2 separate regions of the Homo sapiens genome follow, and region 1 is linked to region 2. Evidence: fine-mapped expression QTL. A gene starts in region 2. The other region holds a variant in brackets. All regions are shown on one strand. Distances are from middle to middle. Region 1 holds the start of LOC105371874 (a long non-coding RNA gene). Region 2 holds the start of ABCA8 (ATP binding cassette subfamily A member 8).

Evidence for each region. PIP is the estimated chance that this variant, and not a neighbour inherited with it, causes the effect. A credible set is the group of variants that fine-mapping cannot tell apart.
Region 1: its variant is the best candidate, but not a certain one, in a credible set for the expression of ABCA8 in prefrontal cortex (ROSMAP, PIP 0.90).

What each region holds. Positions count from the first base shown.
Region 1 is chr17:68,822,444-68,832,297 of GRCh38, forward strand. It overlaps LOC105371874 (a long non-coding RNA gene), which reads left to right and starts at 432. Exons shown (of 3, transcript XR_001752986.3): 1 at 432-546. The variant G/A (reference allele first, on the strand shown) is at 5,221.
Region 2 is chr17:68,950,556-68,960,409 of GRCh38, forward strand. ABCA8 (ATP binding cassette subfamily A member 8) reads right to left here and starts at 4,837. Exons shown (of 40, transcript NM_001288985.2): 1 at 4,664-4,837.

The sequences.
Region 1 (9,854 bases), 130 kb before region 2:
TTATCAAAGCAGTAGGAATGAGCTGGTGAGGAAGGTGTCAGTATTGTTGAGAAGCCCAGTGGTGCTGTCCTTTATGGGCAGGGTTGACAGTAGGAGATGCTGTAATTGTGCCTCCCAGGAGCAATGTGGATGATAGGATTTTAGAATAGCAGAGGCCAACAGACAGCACTTAACCAATGGAAATTAGAAGGGCATAATTAGCATAATGCAAAGCAACTTGGGATGACAGTCAGGGGAACCTGATCCACAGGGATTTACGGTGATGGCTAATAGAACATGATGTCCATAAGAATGGGAAAGATGGGAACTCAGTGACAATATTATTAATATACATACCCTAAGAAATCAAGAACAGACAAGCAGAAAACAAGAAGCTGACCCAACAGGAAGTCTCCTGATCTTGCCCAGTTTCCAGACCGAAGTCATTTCTCAGTTACAGCATCTACAGACAGAGAGTCCAGAGCCCCATGAAGAAAGACTCTACCACAGTGTGTACGGTAATTCTCCCTCCGACCTTCCTTAAAGGGACCTCCAGAAATTACTCAGGTAACCACATATTAAGGAAAGGGGAAGACCCAGATCTTTTGAGGGCTTTTCAACACAGAGCCTGATTTGATGCTGGTACTTGGAAACCCCAAGAGCCATGATGCCCCCTGCTCCTGTTAGAGTAGGTGTATGTGTGAGGATCAGGTAATAACTGAAGTTCTGACTCAGGTCTGTCTTAAACTGGGTCCACTGGGGCCCTGTAGGTACCTGGAGGTCATTTCCCTGATTTCCAAATGTGTAACTGCAATGACATATGAGTTGCAGCCATATTCCTAAGTGAGGAATATACTGCTTCCAGATCTTGAAGACAATTACCAAGCACTGGGCTTTCTTTTTAGTAAATAAAGATTTAAACATGATGTTTAAAAATACTGAGAAGACCAAGTCCCAGTAAAATCCAGATCTCTAGGTCCCTGAAAAAATATGGTGATCCTTGAGTTTTACAGGGTTTATCTCCCACCCTTTGGGGTGCATATTTCTTACCAAAGCCTCCAATCTATTTGCTACCTCTTGCTCGTGTGTATGGATCACCATGATGGTGCTGATTTGGTGGATTAATGTGATGTTCTGTGGAATGTCCAACTGGTCTCATTCCCTTGTACTATGGGATGACAGAGGGTAGGGCAATTAATGCAGCCCTGGGGACAGACTTTAAGTGAACGTAATGTGCCTCTGATCCTTCTTCCAGCTAGAAATGAAAGAGAACGCAGGTTTACCAGCACACTCCTGGACAGGACACTTGGTCAGCACCAATACTTGCAATCCCTCCCTCATTCCAACCTCTAACCACTGCCTCCTATCCTGATAATATCCTGCTTTCTATTAATTACTTGACCTACAATCTATTTATGTGACTAACGTTTCACGATTTCTCTCCATTTGCATGTCATCACTTCATTCCTTGCCCAGCTTAAATGGTTTCAGCATTATATCAGTCCTTGCATATACCCTTGATATCCTTGTCTTTCTTCTAACTCTGCCTTCTGCACACCTGCTTTATGCACCAGAACATGACTCTAGAGAATCATGGAACATGTTGAAATTCTCACTTTAAATTCATAATCACTAATCCCAAGCTGGACCTTAGTGCTGCCCAGAAATCCTACCACCTTCAATTGTATTAATATTTTCACTCTCCTTATCCTCTTCCTCCAAATTTATAGCACTTTCCCCCTTCTTATTCTCCTTTTTTCACTTCACTGAGAAAAAAAAAAGCTAGCAGAAGAGAATTCTGTCATCTCCCATCCACACATCTACTCACTTACTGGATCTGGATCCTATACCAGATTCCATCCCCTTTCATTACCGCAAGATGTTATGTAAGCCTCCCTTCTCTTCTGCTTCATCATTCCAGTCTTCTTTCTTCTAGACCATTCTTTTTGTTGTTGTTGTTGTTGTTGTTGTTTTTGTTGTTGTTTTTTTTTGTTGAGACGGGGTCTCACTCTGTTGCCCAGGCTGGAGTACAGTGGTGTGATCTCGGCTCACTGCAACCTCTGCCTCCCAGGTTCAAGTGATTCTCCTGCCTCAGCCTCCTATCTGGGATTATAGGCGTGTGCCACCATGCCTGGCTAATTTTTGTATTTTTAGTAGAGACGGGGTTTCACCATGTTGGTCAACTCCTGACCTCATGATCTGCCTGCCTCAGCCTCCCAAAGTGCTGGGATTACAGGTGTTAGCCACCATGCCAGGCTAGACCATTCTTATTATCATACAGTCAAACATGCTGTAATTTCTCTCACTTTAAATAAAACTCTTTCTTGAACATGCAAATCCCTTCCAGCACCAATGCCTTTTCTCTGTGCCCCTTTACAGAAAAGAATCATTGAAATAGCTGTCTGTATTGTTTTCCTATCTTCTGTTCCCATGCTCTTTTGATCTCACTTCCAGGATTCCGCACTGCAATCCATCAACATTGCTCTTGTTAAGGTTACTGATGACCTTTCTATTATTGCTCAATCCATTCATCCATTTTCAGCGGATCAGTTAATCCATTTTCATCACCTCACTTGCTCTATCACTAGCATTTGACATAACGAAACACTGACTCTTTACTTTTGTTTCCAGGACAGGGAGGTTCAACTATTATTCCTTTCATACTCATTACATTTTGGAAAACTATATGCCCTCTCACACATTCATTTTGCTGTCATTTAATTGGTCATAGTATTTTATTTTTTTTTTTTTGAGACGGAGTCTTGCTCTGTTGCCAGGCTGGAGTGCAGTGGTGTGATCTCGGCTCACTGCAATCTCTGACTCCCTGGTTCAAGTGATTCTCTTGCCTTGGCCTCCTGAGTAGCTGGGATTACAAGCATGTGCCACCATGCCCAGCTAATTTTTGTATTTTTAGTAGAGACGGGGTTTCACCATGTTGGCCAGAATGGTCTCGATGTCCTGACCTCATGATCCTCCCACCTTGGCCTCCCAAAGTGCTGGGATTACCAGCATGAGCCACTGTGCCCGACGGGTTATAGTATTTTTTAAAACACTTCTAAATTTGAAATTATTTCGCACTCAAAGAAGAGTGGCCAAGATAGTACTGAGAATACTGATGAACATTTTCCCCAGCTTCCCCTCACGTGAACATATTATATAACCATCGTCCATTTGTCAAAACTAAAAAATTCACATTGGTACAAAACTGCACTTTATTCTGATTTCACCAGTTTTTTTCACTGATGTCCTTTTTTCTGTCCCAGGATTTAATCTAGGACCTACAATTTTGCATTTAGTCATCATGCCTCCTTAGTCTCTTCCAATGTGTGACAGTTTCTCAGTCTCCTTGTTTTTCATGACTTTGACACTTTTGAAGAATGCTACTCAGGTATTTTATAAGATACCCCTCAATTTGGGTTAATCCAAAATTTTCTTATGATTGGGCTGGTGTTATGGAGTTTGGGGAAAAGTTCTACCATAGAGGAAAATAGTGTTTCTGATTCCAGCATACACAATGTGTGTAAAGAGTGTATACAATGTTAGCATGACTTATTACTGGTGATATTAACCCTGGTCACTTGGTTAAGGCGTTTCTGCCAGATTTCTCCACTATAAAGGCAGCACTTTCTCCTGTTCACACTCTATTCATTAGGAGCAAGTTATTAAATCCTACCCTCACCCAGGAAGAAGGAATTAGACTTCCTCTCTTGAAGGGAGGAGTCTCAAGGAATTTAATCCACTGTAGTTAATTCAGACTATGGGGAGTTTCTTGGATGTTATACAAATATACTGTTTCTTCTTAAGTCTTTGGCCACTAATTTCAGCATTCATCAGTAGATCACACCTGCAATAATCATTATTCTGCTGCCTTCACGACCTTTCATACATTTTTAAGTTGACATCGAAAATTTTCTTCTTAAGTTTAAATCTTTGTATATTCGTATACTACCTGAATTTCAGCACTGTGTGTGTGTGTGTGTGTGTGTTTGTGCGTGTGTGTTTCCCTCAGAATCTTAGAGTTGCATATTTATACATATCTAATGTATGGAAAAATATCTGCCATATAATCTAACTGGCAAAACCAGTCTTCACAGTAAAAATCAACCATGCAGGGAAGCATATTTTTTCTGTCAGAAAAAAAAACTGGCTTCATTTTAATTAAGATAAACATTTTAATACACATCTCTGTCACAAACTTCTCACCTCCAAATTCTAATGCATGGAAAGACAGACAGATGTATAGCCATAGCACAAAACCTTCTCATGAATTCGTTCCCTGGATATACTAAGGTGCTGTCTTTTTCCCTTTTACTCTTTTTTTTTTTTTTTTTTTGGCATTCATCACAATGCCTTTAATTTTACTTATTTTTTTTAAATTATCTTTTGAAGTTTTTGTGAGTACATAGTAGGTATATATATTTATGGGGTATATAGTTTGTCTCTGTGTCCCCACCCAAATCTCATCTTGTATCTCCCATAACTCCTACGTGTTGTGAGAGGGATCCGATGGGAGATGATTGAATCACGGGGGCGGGGCTTTCCTGTGCTGGTCTCATGATGGTGAATGGGTCTCACGAGATCTGATGGTTTTAAAAACGGGAGTTTCTCTGCACAAGCTCTCTTTGCCAGCTGCCATCCACATAAGATGTGACTTGCTCCTCCTTGGCTTCCTCCATGATTGTGAGGCCTCCCCATGTGGAACTGTAAGTCCAATAAACCTGTTTCTTTTGTAAATTGCCCAGTCTCGGGTATGTCTTTATCAGCAGCATAAAAACGAACTAATACAGGGTACATGAGATATTTTGATACAGGCATGCAATGTGAAATAAGCACATCATGGAGAATGGGGTATCTATCCCCTCATGCATTTATCCTTTGTGTTACAAACAATCCAGTTACATTCTTTATTTTAAAATATGCAATTCAGTTATCATTGACTATAGTCGCCCTATTATGCTATCAAAGAGTAGGATTTATTCTTTTGTTTTATTATTTTTGTACCCATTAACTATCCCCATCTCCCCCTATATCCCTCCACTACTCTTCCCAGGCTGGTAACAACCTTTTTTTTTTTTGGACGAAGTCTCGCTTTGCTGCCAGGCTAGAGTGCAGAGGCGCAATCTTGGCTAACTGCAATCTCCGCCTCCCGGGTTCACGCCATTCTCCTGCCTCAGCCTCCTGAGTAGCTGGGACTACAGGCGCCTGCCACCACGCCCGGCTAATTTTCTGTATTTTTTAGTA[G/A]AGACGGGGTTTCACCGTGTTAGCCAGGATGGTCTCGATCTCCTGATCTCGTGATCCGCCCGCCTCGGCCTCCCAAAGTGCCGGGATTACAGGCGTGAGCCACTGGGCCCGGCCAATTTTTGTATTTTTAGTAGAGACGGGGTTTTACCATATTGGCCAGGATGGTCTCGAGTTCTTGACCTCGTGATCTGCCCGCCTCGGCCTCCCAACGTCCTGGGATTACAGGCCTGAGCAACCCCGCTCAGCCTGTAACCACCTTTCTACCCTCTATGTCCATGAGTTCAATTGTTTTTATTTTTAGATCCCACAAGTAAGTGAGAACATGCAATGTTTATGTTTTTGTGCCTGGCTCATTTCACTTAACATAATGATCTCCAGTTCCATCTATGTTGTTACATATGACTGGATCTCATTCTTTCTTTCTTTCTTTTTTTTTTTAATGGCGGAATAGAACTCCATTGTGTATATGTACCACATTTTCTTTATCCATTCCTCTGTTCACAGACATTTAAGTTGCTTCCAAATCTTAGCTATTGTAAACAGTGCTGCAACAAATAAGGTGTGCAGATGTCTCTTCAATATACTGATTTCCTTTGTTTTCGGTATATACCCAGCAGTAGGATTGCTGGGTTATATGGTAGCTCAATTCTTAGTTTTTTGAGGAACCTCAAAACTGTTCTCCATAGTTGTACTAATTTACATTTCTACCAAAAATGTACAAAGCTTGTCTTTTGGATATAAGTCATTTTAACTGGAATGAGATGATAGCTCATCGTAGCTCTGGTTTGCATTTCTCTGATGATCAGTGATGTTGAGCATCTTTTCATATGCCTGTTTGCCATTTGTATGTCTTCTTTCAAGAAATGTCTATCCAAATCTTTTGCCCATTTTTTGGATGGGATTATTAGATTTTTTCCTATAGAGTTGTTTGAGCTCCTTATATATTCTGGCTATTAATATCTTGTCGGAGGGGTAGTTTGCAAATATTTTCTCCCATTCTGTGGGCTCTCTTTCACTTTGTTGATTGTTTGCTTTGCTGTGCAGAAGCTTTTTAACTTGATATGATCCCATTTGTCCATGTTTGCTTTGGTTGCCTGTGCTTGTGGGGTGTTGCCAAGAAATCTTTGCCCAGCCAATGTCCTAGAGAATTTCCCCAAGATTTTCTTGTAGTAGTTTTATAGTTTGCGGTTCTAGACTTAAGTCTTTAATCCATTTTGATTTGATTTTTGTATATGGTGAGAGATGGGGGTCTGGTCTCATTGCTTTGCATACAGATATCCAGTTTTCCCAGTACCATTTATTGAAGAGACAGTCTTTTCCCCAGTGTACATTCTTGGCAACTTCGTGGGAAATGAGTTCACTGTAGGTGTGTGGATTTGTTTCTGGGTTCTCTATTCAGTTCCATTGTTACGTGTCTGTTTTTATGCCAGTCCCCTGCTGGTTTGGTTATTATAGCTCTGTAGTATAATTTGAAGTCAGGTAATGAGATTCCTCCAGTTTTGTTCTTTTTACTTAGGGATAGCTTTGGGTATTTCCTTTTACCCTTTCTTACAAAGTGTTTGTTTTTAGAAAACACACACTCAGGAATGATCAAAAGCGCTTGCTTTTTTTTTTTTTTTTAATTATTTTTCGGAGTAATGTTCCACAGTAAGATTCAGAATCAGTACCAGGAATGCCTTTCTTTTGTAAACCAGAAAAAATGCAAAAACGGAAGTGGAAAAGAAGAACTGGAAGTCCACAAATGCCTTCTCAAGCATCTTTTTAAGGAAAGTGGTCAAAAGGAGTTTGTGTATCTGGAAGTTGAGTTCTTTAAAGCTTCTTATGCTCACATATACTCTGGAAAATCTTGTGACCCCAGGGTATGTATGGCAATGCACTATATCAATAACGTGCTCTAAATTATTGGAGATCTAAACAATCCTCTTATTTGAGCAAAAATAGATGTATTTGCTTGTCTCCCAAGATATTTGACAAAAGTCATCAAGCATTCTATTATCAAAAATTATTTTAATTGATGTATCACCTGGCTATTCACCTAGTTTCTGTTATAATTTGGCTGGAAGAGAACGTGGAGAGAGGTGTGATAAGATCCTTATGGCAAGGTAATTGAAAAGTAAAGAGCACTGAAAGTCTTTGCAGATAACAGCATTCTTGGGGAGGAGCATTCCTGTACCGTTGAGATTTTGGTTGGTTCTTTTCAAATCCTCAGTTCTGCAAAAAAACATAAAAGTTACTTCTATGTGAGCCCCCAAAGGATATCACCAAGATATCTTTCCATTTAAAAAAAGTAAGATACAAATTTAATTTTAAATTTTCTTTTACCAAAAGACTATGTGATCCAACGTTCTGCAGTATTGGGTTATCATTATAATTATTATTCACAATTTCTCAAAAACATGCATATCATATAAATGTTAATATGTAAATATTAAACATTAAAATTAAATTTTATTGGAAATGTGTATCTTAATGAGGTGAATTGAAGTTTATTTTTCTTTTAGTTCACTTATTTATGAATGAATATTGCTAATTGCTGGAATAAGATAACTCTTAGAACAATATCTGTTCCTTTTTTTCATTTATATATACCTAAATATCGAGAAAACTAACTTACACAAATAAGTAAATAGGAATAGAATGTTATTGTACTGTTACTAAATTATTTATGTTTCTCCCAAGATATTTGGCAAAAGTCACAAAGCATTCTATTACTAAAAATTCTTTTAACTGATGCATCAGCTGGCAATTCAACTAGTTTATCTTATAATTTGGCTGAAAGAGAAAATTAGAAACCATTTGACTCGATGGTTTTCTAATTGTTAGCATCATTCACCTTCTCAACAGGGACACTGTCATTTTAGTAATCTCACTGTGTGTCATTCCAGATGTTTTTATACCCAGAGCCATGCTAATGGTAAGATTCATAAGGGGGTGAGGAGTGACTGCAGTTTATTAGGTGGGAGAAGAGTTGTTACAAAAGAAGCATTGGGAAGCAAGAATCTGCACGTTCATCATTGAAACATCCTCAAATCTAGTGATTTTAGCAAAGCATGCATAGGAAATTGAGGGCTTAGGAGTCTGTTTCCTTATGATTGTTTACCTCTTGGATACGTTTGATATAGCCTGCTCTAATAACTGCCTGTTGAGGGTGCCTGACTCTCCCAGTTTTCCTCCTTCCCTCCCTGATCATCCCTTTTAAATTTCTTTTGCAGGCTTTTCCTCACCCCTGAATGCTCCAACCAGTCCTCAGAAAGCTACATTCTTTCTCCTGGGGATCTCATCCATTTCCATGGCTTAACTACCACCAATAGGTTGAACTACCACCAATAGGTTGACAGCACCCAGAGATTTTTTTTTTCTATAGTGGGATCTTTTGGTGAGCACTCAATTCATATAACAAACTCTCTCCATAACGTCCCTAGTGAGATGTCTAGCAGACATCTTAAACTTAACTTGTCCTAAACCAAACTTCTAACCTGCTCCCTGATATGGTTTGGCTCCATCCTCTCCCAACTCTCATCTTGAATTGTAGCCCCCATAATTCCCATGTGTTTTGGAAGGACCCAGTGAGGGATAATTGAATCATGGGGGCGATTTTCCCCATACTGTTCTTGTGATAGTGAATCAGTCTCATGAGATCTTATGTTTTTATAAGGGGTTTCTGCTTTTGCTTGGTTCTCATTCTCCCTTGTCTGCCACCGTGTAAGACGTGCCTTTGGCCTTCCGCCATGATTTTGAGGCTTCCTCTGCCACACAGAACTGTGAGTCCCTTAACTTCTTTTTATTTATAAATCACCCAGTCTCAGGTATGTCTTTATCAGCAGCGTGAAAACGGACTGTTACATTCCCCCTCCCTAATTTTCTTCTTCCGTAGTCTTCCCCATGAAAGTTAATTTGGAGTCATTCTTTAGCTACCAGCCAATGCTGTTGGCTCTACCTTCAATTTCCAAAATTTGGTCTCCAATACTATCTCTTATGGGTTGTTCCTGATACCGCAGCCTAATGAATTCTTTAAAAACACACCAGAGAAGAGAAGAACCCTCCAGCACCGATTTTTTTTCTCTGTCTCTCAAAAAGTAAAAGACAAACTCCTTAAAATTTCCACAATCCCATACGTGGTTGGTCCCTACTTTTCTAAAGTCATTCTGGACTGTTCTGCTCACTCACTCCATTCCAACTCCACTGGCCTGCTCAGGCACGTCAGGTGGGCTCCTCCCTCCAGACCTTGCCATTGGCCATTCCTTCAACCGGGATTCTTATTATCCAACGTATTTATATGGCTTATTCCATCCCCATCCTCTTCTTCAGGTCTTTGCTCAAATGGTCAACTGTGAGGTCTTCTCCAACTCCCAATTGAGTATTGTATCCCATCCCTCCTCTACACTCCTAATTCCTCATTCTTGTATCATTTTCTCTATAGCACTTTTCATTCATGATGTTCTGCATGCTTTACTTGTTTATTATTATATTACATTTTCTGTTTTCCTTCACTGTGTCTCCTATGAGGAGAGCTATTTTTGTCTGCTGTATCTCTAGGGCCAAGAACAATGACTGGGCTCATAGTAAAAATTCAATAAATATGTGTTGAGTGATAAGTAAATGAGACAACTATGCCACTAAATTGTAAAATGTAA
Region 2 (9,854 bases):
CATTAGTCTTGCTAGAATTTTGAATGTATTAATGGCCTTTTAAACAAAACAGCAGTTTACTGTTTCATCATTTTCATTGCTTACTATGTTTTCTAATTTATTAATTTATCCTCTTACTTTTCACGGTTTTATTTCTACTCTTTTTGGGGGTTGGTTTTGCTACTTTTTCCTTTGGCTTCTTGGCTGAAATAACGAACTAATGTTAGCAGAGTGGCTGAGAAAATGGATTCTGGAGTTGAGTGATTGATTGCATCAGTGACCCAATTATCCATCTGTCTGTGTCCACCCTTTGTCTGGTAATTTTGGAGTTTTTGTCATCAAGGCAGGCTAGTACTTGGGCCAAGAGAAGAAGGGAGGTGTGATGTCGCACCAGTTCTGAACCTCAGCCTCCCGAGACCTTGAGTGTATCTGCTTGTTTTTTTGTTTCTTCCATTGCTGTGAGAGCAGACCTGGCCTAGCCTACTGCGGAATGAAACCAAGCTGAGTCCTCTCAGTCATCCAGTTGAGAGTGCTAGCCAGTCCCCTCCCAGAGATACCATCAAGCCTATCCAAGATCAGCAGTTTCTTAGGAACCACTGCAGACACCACACTACAAATGCTTATTGCTGTGTGTTGTTATTTGGGTTTATTTCCTTTTTGCTATGTAACATAAATGTGGCAATAGACCATACATATGTTACTTAGGATTACCTCTTTAGCATTCACTATATTGAAGTTTCTTTGTTTTTAGTGACTTTTTATTTTTGATTTCTAACAATTATATTGTGACCAAAGAAATGACTTCTCAGTAAGATACTGCTTCTTTAAAATTCCTTAAGACTTCCTCGCTGGTGCAGCATATTTTAATATTTGAAAGTGTTCCACGTGCACCTAACATACCTGTAACTCACCATTTAGGTGAAGTGTTTTGTACGTATCTATTCAATCTTTTTCATTGTGTTCTTCAAATCTTCAGCATCCTTTCTAATGTTATATTTCCTAGATCAATCATTTCATAATAGAGTTCAATTAAAAATTTCCACTCTAATAATAGGTTTGGCAATTTCTTATTATATCTCTGTTAGTTTTCAGCAAGTGCATTTAAAGCATAGGTAGCTAGGTGCATAAAACATTGCTTTTTTATGTTTCAGTAATAGGTTGCTTCTATTTCTGATAATATGGAGACACTAGGTTTCTGTAGGTTAATATTTGCCTAATGTATCTGTTTCTATCTCTTTGTTGTTAACCTTTTGCTGCATTTTTAAATATTTGGTTACTATATAAAAAACTATCAATGCATTATGTTTAGAAATCTAAACTGATAGATAACTATATTTTAAGAGATGCATTAAACCATGTATGAATTTTTGTTTTGGATGATCTCTCATTCTATCTTATTCTCACGTTAAACCTACTTTTCTTTTGCTTCTAGTTTTGTCTACATCTTTACCTTCTATTGAATTGAAAATGTTTTCCTCTCCTTCTTCACTTCTTCTCCTGTCCCAAAGATGTAAAAGGTGGTTATATGTCTTTTATGGTTACTCTTAAATACTTTTCTAAGAAACTATAACTTATTTTATGAAAACTCAAAAGTATTTATTATCTCTGTTCTCTTTTTACAAACAAATGCCTTCTAGTTATTTTAACACTCTGCTGAATTCCAATCTAATTATCCTGGTTATTTATTTATTTATTTATTTTTGAGATGGAGTCTCGCTCTGTCGCCCAGGCTGGAGTGCAGTGGTGCGATCTCGGCTCACTGCAAGCTCCGCCTCCTGGGTTCATGCCATTCTCCTGCCTCAGCCTCCCGAGTAGCTGGGATTACAAGCGCCCGCCACCACGCCCAGCTAATTTTTTGTGTTTTTAGTAGAGATGGGGTTTCACCTTGTTAGCTCGGATGGTCTCGATCTCCTGACCTTGTGATCCGCCTGTTGTTGTGTAGAAATGTGATTCAATTTTCAATTTAAAGAACATACAAAGTAGATTCATTTTTTACCATCAAATGTCTATTAACTTTGCCAATGAATTATGCATTTCTGTAGCGAGGCTTTGATATACTTGGGCTTGTGCAGGAGGTGGAGTGTAGAAATTCCTCCTGTACAGGGCTTGCATTGGCGGCAGCTGCTTTAAGAACCCAGAAACTTTTGTCCTCTCTGTAGGCTAGCTCACTGTGAAAATATCCCATGGATTTTACCTAAAATTGCTTACAGAGAGTGGCATTATACTTCTATAGATAACTGCATCAGTAACCAGAGAGGAGAAGTACAGCAGTAGACTACCCTCTACCCCCTGGTAGGAGTAGTAGCACATCACAGTTTCAGCATGTTCAATCTTGAGCAAAGAACATGATGTGATTGTTTCTGGGTATGTCTGTATATGGGGGGTGATTTTGTAGGGGAATTTATACATACAGTTTATTGCAGCAGGCACATAAAATACTTCCCAGAAGAAGATAATTCAGTGCATAATAAGAGCACCACATCTTTCCAGAACTTCAATCAACCACTGCTACACAAATAGGATTTGCTAAGCCACTCCTGAAAACTGTAGGACTAGAGTGCTTTCAAATGGTCTTTGCCGTGGGAGAAAACAGGCTACCTAAGCTGAATTATAGAAAGTAAAGAGATTCTGGAAGGTACCATCATCAGTTTTCTGGGAAGCATGTGAAGGACATGACTTGGAAGAATGGGTCCAGACTTTTGAGCACAAAGCCAGCAGCTCCACCCTGAAGACCATCATTTGGCTCATAAGTCCTGACTTCTGAAGCAAGTGATCTCCCTCCGTATGCATGCCATGTTGGCCATGCAGTTTCTATGAACTCCTCCATAGTGATGAGAAGTGAATGAGCCCCAACTGAAGCCATCATCTCATTTATGGGACAGGATCACACACAGGGTGGTGCTACTTTCTAGAGCCAAATCTCAAGTAAGGTGTCCAGGGGTCAGTTGCAACAGAAGGCACATTAGCCACAGCAGTCTCAGAGAACACTGCTAGAAGAAGAACCTACACATGGCCATGCAATGAGGCTGAGGGGCAGGCCTAAGTGGAAGCAGACCAAGTAAAGAGGTCAGAGAGCCCATGGAAGGAGAAGAGGGAAAGACAGTTCCAAGAGTAAAGCAGCCTAGGTTAAGGTGCAGAAAATTCAGCATGGATACTTTTAAGAGAGCTGTGCAAGGCTCTCCTTACCTAAAATCACACTCCGTATACAGACATACCCACAAACAATCACATCATGTTCTTTGCTCAAGATTGAACTTGCTGAAACTGTGATGTGCTACTACTCCTACCGGGGGTAGAGGGTAGTCTGCTGCTGTACTTCTCCTCTCTGGTTACTGATGCAATTATCTATAGAAGTATAATGCCGCTCTCTGTAAGCAATTTTAGGTAAAATCCATGGGATATTTTCACAGTGAGCTAGCCTACAGAGAGGGCAAAAGTTTCTGGGTTCTTAAAGCAGCTGCCGCCAATGCAAGCTCTGTACAGGAGGAATTTCTTTTTTTTTTTTCGTTTTATTATTATACTTTAAGTTTTAGGGTACATGTACACATTGTGCAGGTTAGTTACATATGTATACATGTGCCACGCTGGTGCGCTGCACCCACTAACTCGTCATCTAGCATTAGGTATATCTCCCAATGCTATCCCTCCCCCCTCCCCCCACCCCACAACAGTCCCCAGAGTGTGATGTTTCCCTACACTCCACCTCATGCACAAGCCCAAATATATCACAGCTTCTCTACAGAAATGCATAATTCACTGGCGAAGTTAATAGACATTGGCCAAGAGGATGATCTCCTCACTATGGAATCAGCTACAGTCTTAGGTAGCATGCAAACTCCAGTCTGACTCCAATCCCTTATATCTTCCATCGTAAAGTATTATTGCCAACTTTGTTTCTTTCCAATTTTTGTATGTTCTGCAGTTTATGTAAAGGCTAGCAAAAACATGAATACTTTATTATACATATGGCAAATAGTCTCAAATTGTAATGACTCATTTTTATCCTCTTATACTGTTGTAAAATTCAGAACAACATGTATTCACTATAGGAGTATGAAAATTCTTTTTACCAATGTACATTTTAAATAACATTGTGGTAAAGAGAAGCTACATATTTCACATTCTGATTCAACTCACTGTATCCAACGAGTAAAAGATCCTAGAAAGAATCTTACATTTCTAAAATTCTTATAGACTAAGAGTGAGCGATAGGAACAATAAAAATATTTCTGTAAGTGCTCTTGGTAAACAGTCTTAAAGTCAGAAGAACACTTATCCAAAATGCCCTACATTATTGTGCAATCAAAGTAGATAACTTTAACTTCAAAAACAACTCAGTCTTCCAACCCAATTCTTAAAACTCTAAGCTCTTCACAAAAAATTTTTAGCCAATTTAAACTTATTTCTACACTCAGTTATGTTTAAAACAACATAATGTTTGCATAATTTTTTAAAAAACATTCTAACTCAATGTTTTTATTTATCTAATATTAATTACCAGATATAAAATCTTTAAAGTAGCCCAATATTTTTCAAAATAATTTCTGCATAGATGATTGTCATTCAGTTTATAAAGGTTTATTTATAATTTTGTGATAGGAATAAGAAAAGACAAAACCTCTGAAACAAACTCACACACAAAAGCAAAATACAAAACAAAACAGAAAAAATACAGTGAACTTACTTCTGGGAAAATGGAAGCAAGGAATCTAGAGGTATGGTTTATCCACTGAGCTCCTTGTTTAGAAGAAAGTTATTCATATTTTCTCCTGGTCTCTACCATGTATCTAGAATTTGCTTTAACTATTTGACTTCTGTGAAAAGTTTCTGTGAAGACTGCTTTCAGAGTGGAGGTTATGATCTCAATTCTGTTGGCCCTGCCAAACATCACATTCACGTCATCATGCTTGGACTGTTTGTCTTCTCATTGATATTCGGCCAGTTCCTGCAGAGCAGTGGCATTTATACTGGGTTGCCTGGCTATATCATATTATAGGGAGCAATTTCTCTTTTACGTCCAAGATTATTGTGGCTAATACCAAAATTTAAAGTGCTGTCTTTAAGCCATGAGAAAGTAAACAGCTTAATCAGAGAAAAGCTCTTCTCTCTACCCAGAGCTCTAGTCTGCTTAATTGACAGCTTTACCTAGATAATCAAAATTTTCATTCCTCTGCTTCCCAGCTTCATTTTCACTCAGTTCAGACTATTTTCCAATTTATTTGACCCACGGATTAATCAGAAATGTGCTTAATTTCCAAGTGTCTGAAGATTTTCTTATCTTTTGGTTATTGATTTAATTTTAAATCAGAAGTTCAATTATACTCAGAAAAAATATTTTGTATGTCAAATTTGTTAAGGCTTATTTGATGACCCAGGATATGATCTATCTTGGCAGATATTCCATAGGCACTTGAAAAGTTGTATAGTTTTTTGGTGTTGAGTGGAATATTATATAATATCTATTACATTTAGTTGGTTGATGATATTGTTCAGTTTTTTCTATATTTTTCCTAATTTTCTGTCTCCTAGTTCTGTTGATTACTAAGAGAGGAATGTTGAAGATTTTAACAAAACTTAGGGACTTTCAAATTTCTCCCTTTAAAACTATCATGTTTTGCCTGATGTATTTTGCAACATTTGGAATTGTTATGTCTTCTTGGTGAATTGACCCTTTTATCATTATGTAATGTTAATCTTTATCTCTAGTAACTTTTGTGTTCTAAAGTCTACTTTGTTTCATATTAATAATATAGCCATTCTTACTTTCCTGTGATTATTGTTTTCGTGGTATTTTGTTTTCATCCGTTTATTTTTATCTACACACACACACACACACACACACACTATATGCTTTCAGAGTGGCAGTTATGATCTCAATTCTGTTGGCCCTGCCAAACATCACATTCATATTATATGTGTATGCGTGTGTGTGTATGTGTGTGTGTGCGTCTGTGTTTGTTATTATTTTTTTAAGATGATGGTCTTGCTATGTTGCCAAGGCTGGACTTGAACTCCTGGGTTCAAGTGATCTTCCCATCTCAGACTCCTGAGTAGCTGAAACTACAGATACATGCCACTATACCCAGCTCTAAATTGTATTTCAAGTGAGTTTCTTGTAGATGGCATATAATAGAGTCATGAGTTTGGTTTTTAAAATCCAATTTGACAATGCACATCTTTTAATGGGTGTGTTTAAATTATTTTCATTTTATGTAGCTATTGATTTTTAAAATCAGATCTGCCATTTTGTTATTTGCTTCTTTTCTCTCTGGTTTTAATTCTCCTATTTCCCATTTTCTGCTTTCTTGTTGGTTATTTGAAATTATTTTTTGGTATTGCATTTCAACGTATCTATTATGTTTCTTAACTGTATCTATTTGTATAGTTATTTTAGTGGTCACTCTCAGGATTACAAAAGACATACTTAACTTGACATGCTTTACCCAGAATTAATATTTCTTCATTTTAAGTGAAATATATAAACCTTACTATGATATACAGACAAAATAGGAAGGAGGTCAACAAGGGTGCTGCTCAGTAACTATATAACCAGAAGGGGAAGAAATAGAGGAGTAAGAGGCTCAACATGGTCTCCATCACCCCAATAAAAAGTCATGATCTCTTGCTCAGCTCCTAGTCCTAAGCTACTTTTCAGATACAGAACATATTGATTAAAAAACTAGTCAGACCCCTAGAAGAAAAGATCTTGCAACATCTTGACAAGTATATACTGTGGTGATTATACTTCCTAGTCCTCCCTCAAAGGGACCTAAAGCCATTATTTGGGTGATTATACACTGAAGAAAGAAAAATCCCCAGACATGTCAAGGGTTGTTGGGCATAAAGTCAGAGTGGACATTGATAACTGCAACCCACACTAAGGCCCTACAGCTAGATTGAGAATATAGAGCCAAGGTCGTAAATGGAGTTCCGGTTAACAAGCAGCTCTGCCTCGTCTCACTGGACTTATGGACATACCCAGTGGTGATTTTGCTGTCACCAAATGTGCTGTTAGAATTGACATATCTAGTAGTTAGAATAACTTCCATGCTGAGTCCTTGGCCTGTAGGGTAAAAACTATCATAATGCAGAAGGGAAAGTGGGCACCTTTGACAATTCTCCCAACTTTATCCCCAGCCATGACACTTAATCAAGAACAGTATTCCACATGGGGAGAAGAAATGCAGAGACCAATGCCACAAATAGTGACATAAGGATGAAAGGTAGTGGTGCCTAGCACACCTTAATTTAATTTGCCAGCCTGATCCTTGCAGAAGCCAGAAAGATTCTAGAGAATGCTTAGACTATCTCAAGCTCAAACAACTAGTGGTCCTAATTAGAGTTGCTTTGTCAGACATGGTATCTATTCCTAGAGCAGATACATGATTTTTAGCCAGCGATTAGTCAGATGCATTCTTCTCTATTCTGATTAGAAAAGAGCATCAAAAACAGTGCACAATCAGATAGATTAGGTAATATTATTTCTTTACAGTTTTCCCTCAGTGCTCTATTGACCCCCTAGCTTTTTTTATAATATAGTCTTAAGAGGTCTGGACCATGTAGACATCCACAGAATATCATATTGACACATTGATGGCATCATGCTGATCAGACAAGATGAGCAAGATGTGACTAGCATGCTGGAGGTTTTGGTAGTACACATGTTTTAGAAAGTGGGAGATAAACCCTGTGAAGATTCTGGAGGTTTTCACTTCGGCAAAGGTTTTATGGATCCAGTGGCTAGGGGTGCTTTGCCTATCTCCTTCAAAGTGAAAGAAAAATTACTGTATCTTGCAGCCTCAACCAGTAAGAAGAAAGGTCAGCATCTGTGATGTCTCTTTAGATTCTAATGGCAACACATTCAATGGCTGGTTATATATATTATATATATATATAATTATATTATATAAATATATAATATATAATATAATTATATATATAATATATATAATATATAATATAATTATATATAATATATAATATATATATAATTATATATAATATATAATATATAATATAATTATATATAATATATAATATATATATAAAATATATAATATATAATTATATATAATATATAATTATATATTATATATATTATTTATATATTATATAATTATATATTATATATATTATATATTATATATATTTATATATTATATAATTATATAATATAATATAGTATATAAAATATATATAATATTTAATATATATAATATTAAAATATTAAAATATATATTATATTATATATAATATATAATATTAAAATATATATTATATTATATATATATTATATTATATATATATTTTATAATATAATATAATATAATAATATAATATAATATAATAATATAATATTATATATTATTATTATATAATAATAATATAATATAATATAATATAATAATAATAATATAATAATATATATTATGTATACTGACTCATAAATACATACTGACTCATATATATATTATATAATTATATAATATATATTAAATTTTATATGTATATTATATATAAAGACTTTAGGTTACTGTTGAGAAGGCATGACTGGTTTTGAAATATAAGGATATGATATTTAGAAGGGGCCAGGGGCAGAATGATATGGTTTGATTTTGTCCCCACCCAAATTTCATCTTGAATTGTAGCTCCCATAATTTCCACGTGTCATGGGAGGGACCCAGTGGGAGGCAACTGAATCATGAGGAGTGGGTCTTTTCCGTGCTCTTCTCATGATAGTGAGTAAGTCTTACAAGATCTGATAGTTTTATAAAGGGGAGTTCCCCTGCACATGCTGTCTTGCTTGCCACCATGTAAGATGTGACTTTGCTCCTCATTTGTCTTCTGCCATGATTGTGAGGCTTCCCCAGCCATGTGGAACTGTGAGTCAATTAAACCTCTTTCCTTTATAAATTACCCAGTCTCAGGTATGTCTTTATTAGCAGCATGAGAGCAGACTAATACAGATACCATCTCACACCAGTCAAAATGGCCATTTTTAAAAAGCCAGTAAATAATAGATGCTGGCTAGGCTGCAGAGAAAAGGGAGTGCTTATACACTGTTGGTGGGAATGTAAATTAGTGCAGCCGCTGTGAAAAGCAGTTTGGAGATTTCTTAAATAACTTAAAAAAAGAATAACAGAATAATCATTCAACCCAGCGATGTCTTTACTAGGTATATACCCAAAGGAAAATTAATCATTTTACAAAAATGACACGTGCACTTGTATGTTCATGGCAGTGCCATTCATAATGGCAAAGACTTGGAATCAACCTAGGTGCCCATCAACAGTGGTTTGGATGAAGAAAACTTGGTATATATACACCATGGAATACTACACAGTCATAAAAAAGAATGAAATCATGTCCTTTGCAGCAACATGGATGCAGCTGGAGGCCATTATCCTAAGTGAACTAACACAAAAACAGAAAACCAAATACTGCATATTCTCACTTATAACTGGCAGCTAATCATTGAATACACATAGACATAAATGTATTTTAACACATTATTATTCCCACTTAGATTCTGTGTAATATTTAACCATTTAATTACATCAACAAATAAAAGCCTTTAGAAATTGATGTATCTAGCACAATTAAGGGGTAATTTGTTTATGATTACAGGAGTCATTTCATTTACACTAATTTGATGTGAGGAGACAATCAAATTCCTTTTTTCCTATAAGAAAAACTTAATTCCGGGAGGCTTAGGCAGGAGAATCTCTTGAACCCAGGAGGCAGAAGTTGCAGTGAGCCGAGATTGCACCATTGCACTCCAGCCTGGGCAACAAGAGTGAAACTCTGTCTCAAAAAAATAAATAAATAAAATAAAATAAAAAGTAAAACTTAACCCTCACATTTTTTCTTTAAAA